Regions from separate parts of the Homo sapiens genome. Here region 2 is linked to region 1. A link means that fine-mapping ties the variant in region 1 to the expression of a gene that starts in the linked region. Tissue or cell type: lung. Region 1 holds a variant in brackets; the other region holds the start of a gene. All regions are shown on one strand. Distances are from middle to middle.

The links. PIP is the estimated chance that this variant, and not a neighbour inherited with it, causes the effect.
Region 2: it holds the start of NGRN, and the variant in region 1 is the best candidate, but not a certain one, in a credible set for the expression of NGRN in lung (TOPMed, PIP 0.61).

Annotation. Positions count from the first base shown.
Region 1 is chr15:90,209,219-90,212,059 of GRCh38, forward strand. The region is part of intron 1 of SEMA4B (semaphorin 4B); the gene reads left to right. Among named protein-coding and RNA genes, the nearest start is that of SEMA4B, 9.3 kb to the left of the region's middle. RefSeq lists enhancers at 452-501, 2,037-2,841. The variant A/G (reference allele first, on the strand shown) is at 1,593.
Region 2 is chr15:90,263,966-90,266,635 of GRCh38, forward strand. NGRN (neugrin, neurite outgrowth associated) reads left to right here and starts at 1,707. Exons shown (of 3, transcript NM_001033088.3): 1 at 1,707-1,911; 2 at 2,323-2,433. The coding sequence starts at 1,748. TTLL13 (tubulin tyrosine ligase like 13) reads left to right here. Exons shown (of 15, transcript NM_001396017.1): 14 at 1-93; 15 at 755-1,512. The coding sequence ends at 1,002. It also overlaps a transcript of CIB1 not described here. RefSeq lists enhancers at 719-1,690, 1,178-1,307, 1,668-1,897, 1,691-2,661.

The DNA of each region.
Region 1 (2,841 bases):
GGTCTTGATCTTGAAGATGCTGTCAGCTTGGTGGAAAAGAAGAGCACAAAGACCGGGCGCGGTGGCTCACACCTGTAATCCCAACACTTTGGGAGGCCGAGGCAGGCGGATCAGCTGAGGTCAGGAGTTCAAGACCAGCCTGGCCAACATGGTGAAACCCCATCTCTACTAAAAAAATATATATATATATACAAAAATTAGCCGGGCATGATGGCGGGTGCCTGTAATTCCGGCTACTCAGGAGGCTGAGGCTGAGGCGGAAGAATCGCTTGAACCCAAGGTTCAAGGTTGCAGTGAGCCAAGATCATGCCATTGCACTCTAGCCTGGGCGACAGAGCAAGACTGTCTTAAAAAAAAAAGAGAGAAGAGCGCAGAAAGACCCTCCTCATCATCATCAAACATCAAACATTGCCATCATCCGACAGTGTCACCAGTGCACTACAAGACGTGTGAACAGGAAATGATGGGCATACGGAGAAGGGCCCTTGCCCAGCCGGGGATCCAGGAAGGCCTCCTGGAGGAGGTGGAACTGAGCCAAGTCTCAAAGGATGAGTGTGAGTTAGTCAAAAGGAAAGCCTTCTGGGTGGAGGGGACTTCCTGAACAGACCGGAGATGAGAGAATTGGGCCCTTGAGTTGCAGTTCCATGTCACTTGGTCGAACCAAGAGGTGGGTGGGTGGCAAGCACTAGCAAGTTAGGAGCTTGGACGACGGGGTGCTATTGAAGTTTTTAGGCAGAACAGTGACGGCTCCCAGAGAGCCCTCTGGCTGCAGCATAGCAGCTGGCCTGGAGATGGGAGGCTGGTTGGGAGGCTGCTGTGATGGTGGCCTAGGTGAGAGAGGATGGTGCCAGGCTCAGGACTGCGGTAGTGGGGATGGTGAGGGGAATGGATTTGGAAAATATTGAGAGAAAATTGGCAGGATTTGATTATAGACTGGACTTCTGAGGAAGGAGGATGGTGAGACACCCAGGTGAGTGGTGCCACACACAAACACAAAATGCCAAGCCAGGGAGTGGGACTGGAAGGGGGCGGTGAGGTGGTGGGAGGCACCCACAGAGGCCCTTCTGCACTGTGGGGTCTGGTGTGTTGGAGGAAGATCTGCACTTGGATGAGGAGATTTGGGGATCGCCAGCATCCGCGTCATTGAAGTGATGAGCATGGACGTGTGACCCAGGGGCTTGAACGGAGTTAAGAAGAGCAGGGCCAGGAGCAGACAGACCTAGAGAGCAAGAACATTCAGGAGCAAAGCCTGAGGCAGGAGGGTGGTCATCAACACAGATGCTGCAGCCAGGTGGCCCAGGGTCGGGCGGCATCCCCACCACTCCTCCCGGGGATGACTTGCACCTGAAACAGAGGTAATAAAACACAGCAGCCTTGTGAGGATGACATGACTTAATCCGTTTAAAGGGCTGAGAAAGTGCTCACATACTTTAGCTCTTTGAGGGCTAGAGGCCCAGAAGGCATGTGAGGGAGACACGGAGTGATGCTTGAGACTGGGGGCACAGGTACCTAGAGGACGGGGTGGCGTGGCCCGTGTCTGGGGTCTGTCAGCGAGGCGATCCCTGGGCTCTTGGCAGGGCTGGCACTGCTGA[A/G]CGTGGGGCTGGCTGAGGCCCAACTTCTGTGGAGGAGTGAGTGGAAGGTGAGAGGCAGAGATGGCATGGGGTGGCTGTTCTCTTTGGGAGCTTGTCTAAGGCAGGTGGAGGGAGGCACAAAAGTTTCTAGAATGGACATTGGAACAAAAACTGCTTTCTGACAGGTAGAGTTGGTGACATAGGATTTGGTCTCTGAGGAGATGGGGTGGGAAGTTGAGGTTGTTTATGCCTGATGACCCCGATTTCCTTGGAAGAAGTGGAGACATCTATAAAAGCAGGAAGGCAGACCCAGGGCAGAGGCCCTAGAAGCCGGGTTGTTAGAGGGGAGCCAGCCCCTGAGCAGAGGGACTGAGCGTGTCCCTGTGTAGACCTGTGAGCAGGCAGGCGGCAGGCAGGCTCCTAAGGTGACGGCAGTGGTCTGTGCACCCATGGCACAGGCCCTAGGTCGGGACTGGGACTGCCTGGGGGTTCTGGCAGAGGCTCTTCGTCTGCCCACTTGGGGCTGTAGCAATGGCTTTCCGGGGCATGCCCCAGGAGCACAGATGCTGTGAGGCCAGGTTCCCTTGCCCTCGTTGCCACTTTCTTGGTGACCTCAGTCCATGGGAGGACCCTTGGCACACAATACCCCCAACCTCTGCCCAGAGTCCCTGGTCAGGGACTCGACTCTGGCACTGGGCTGGTGTCAGCAGAATGTGGCCCCCTCCTCCATGCTCCATGAGGAAGAAGTGGCTGCCCTGCCCAACACGGGCCGTGTGGAGGAAGGAAGTGCACCCAGGTTGGCAGTGTGTCCCAGTTTCCTGCTGACTGTGGCCCCGTCAGCACTCCTGCCCTGGAGGTGGGGCTGCTGCTGGGGTAAGTGGGTCCAAGGTTCTGGTGACTTATCGTGACATCCCTGGGGACGAAGGGCTACAACAGCCTTTCAGGAGGCTCTCTGGGGACTTGTCCCGCCCAGACCCCTCTCTGAGAGTGGGGGAGGCCACTGGCTGCCTCCTTGCATTGGAGGCCCCTTCCCCACCGACTCCACAGGGAAGCTGGTGTTTTCTGGCCTGATCCTGCTGGGGCCTGTAGAGGGTGGGATGTTAGGGCCAGGTCAGCGTCTTGCTGCCGTGCCCGGAGCCACAGTAGAGAGAAAGGTGGGGTGGGGTTCTGAGTCACAGCGCTGCTGCAGCTAGCTGGCTGGCCTGGGGTGGGGACTAACCAGGGTGGGGATGGTGCTGAGCCCTATTCCTGTCTCACCCCAGAGAGCTCC
Region 2 (2,670 bases), 55 kb after region 1:
CAGGAGAGCCGGCAGCCATCAACTCCTGTTCATTGTCAATGAAGAAGGCTGGGAGGTGCTATTTTTCCAGTGCCAGAATCAGGCTCACTAGCCGTAAGTATGCAAAACTAGCTTTGGTCATTTTGACATATGTAAATCCCACTAGCAAGCATAGAGCTTGGATGCCCCTAAAATATAATATGGCACTTCCACCAGTGTAAGAATGGGGAAGTTAGGGTACCCATTTATTTACTCCTTTTTTTTTGAGACAAGGTCACGCTCTGTCGCCAAGGCTGAAGTACAATGGCTTGATCTCACTTCACTGCAAACTCCACTCACGGGCTCAAGTAATTCTCCTGACTCAGCCTCCTGAGTAGCTGGGACTATAGGCACACACCACCATGCTCGGCTAACTTTTGTATATTTTGTTTTTGCCACGTAGCCCAGGCTGGTCTTGAACTCCTGATCCACCTGAATCAGTCTCCCAAAGTGCTAGGATTACAGGTGTAAGCCACCGCACCAGGCCTATTTAATCCTTTCTGTACACTAGACCCTGGTGATAGAAATGGCAGAAATACAGTCCCAGCACTCAAGAGGTAATAGGAACATGGACAAAAAGACATACCATACCAATTACAATACAGTGTGGGAAAGACAGTGGAGGGAAGCATGAGATGCCCTTCCTCTGTGTTGGTAATTGGGCCACAGTTGGGAAAGAGGTGAACAAATCTCTTCTGTGAATACCAACTCAGGGACATCCATGTTTCCACTGCAGAAGGACAAGCCAGCAGAAGGCTAGAAGCCATAAACCGAGTCCTGGCAGGATCAGTGCCACCCACTTTAACCCCAAAGCAGGGCTATTTTCTGCAACCGGAAAGAGTGGCATCTGACTCATGGACTGAATGCACCTTGCCCTCCATGGTAAACTCTGAACACAGAGCAGCCAAGGTTCCCCTCTGCCCTGCGTCTGCACCCATGCTGCAGCGTTCCAGAGCACTCCTCAACATCAATCAGTTCAGGTAAAAGCAGGAGGGAAGCACTCTACCTCTCCTGGATAACCTCCCCAGGTTTCCAAAGGGCATTAAATCTTTGCTAAATGAATGACTGCCACCAAGTTCCACTTTGAAAAGCCCTGCCCAGGAACCCCATTTGTATAAGGCAAAATACAAAGACACCAAGAATTCCTCAATACCCTAAGATTAATTGGGGATCGGTAAAGACTAGAAGATGAAGAGGCGCCAAGGCCAGCCATGTACTCATTTCTGCTCATCAAGCCTTAGCCTGGGTTTATCGCTAGGTGATGGGTCTGAACCCTAGGTGCGGCCCGGGGCTGGAGGCCATCCAGGAGACAATGAGCCCCTTTCCCAGAGAAGCCGAGTGCCCAAGGCACTGGGCTGTCGCCGTCAGAAGACTGCCGAGCGGAAGCCCTGCCCACCGAGGTGGCGGAGACAGGCAGGCCTGGGCAGCCGCTGGGGCGGAGGGACGGCTCTTGGAAACGGAATCCGTACTTTAATTAAAGTTTATGCAGTTTTCCAGGAGCGTCCTGTACCTCATTTCGGCCCTCACGTTTCAGGGAAGCCCTCTCCACAGTTACAGGCAGAAAGGGTGGGCCACTGAGCAGCGTGAGCCCAGATCTTACCCCCACCAAGTGAAGCGGGAAATAACTTGCTACTACCCAGCCTCCGGCCCGCCCCTTCCACTTCCGGTCTTACCCGGCTACTTCCGCTGCTGTTTCGTAGCCGACTGCTGAAGGCTGGTTTGCGTCGACATGGCGGTTACCCTGAGTCTCTTGCTGGGCGGGCGCGTTTGCGCCGCCGTCACTCGCTGTGGGTTCGCGACCCGGGGGGTGGCGGGCCCAGGCCCTATTGGCCGGGAGCCGGACCCCGATTCCGACTGGGAGCCGGAGGAACGGGAGCTGCAGGAGGTGGAGAGGTACCGGCTTCTCCCCGGGCCCTCAGCTTGAAGCAGGGCCTCGTGCCCCGGCGCTCCAGGCCGCGCCCCCTTGGCGCCGGGTGTCCTGCCGCTGCTTGCGCAGCGGCCCTTGTTTCTTCTTACCCGTTGTTAGGGGCGCAGCGTCAGGTGTTCAGCTCCCCTGGGACCACTGGTCCCTTCATTAGTGACGTATTTCATCATCAGTTTAGAGAGTTCGGCATGCTTACAGGCAGTTATTGTTCTAGGTGTTAGCTTTCTGGGTGTACGGAGCAGCTCTAAGCCGGCAACATGGCCCGGTTGCCCTTGCGATCAAAGAGAAGAGGGCTGGGCGCTCCATGATTTAGCCTGAGGCTCTTCAAACATCCATTCTGCTTCCACGCATGGCTTCTGCCATTGGTTCTCTTCCCCCAGCACCCTGAAACGACAGAAACAAGCAATCCGATTCCAGAAAATTCGGAGGCAAATGGAGGCGCCTGGTGCCCCGCCCAGGACCCTGACGTGGGAAGCCATGGAGCAGATACGGTGAGACTCAGGATACCTTGTTTGTATCCGCTGTGATGAGAAGTGAAGGATGCTGGAGCCCAGAAACGGGTTTGGCTTTTTTGATACTGCTTTTATATTTTCGTTTACTTTTTGTCGTTGAAATTTATTATCAGAAAAGTAGAGTAATATAACGAACTTCCCTAACCCTGTCATTATCTAGATTTAATAGTGTTTTGTTTTGTTTTTTAAAGAGACGGGGTTTCGCTATCGCCTCGA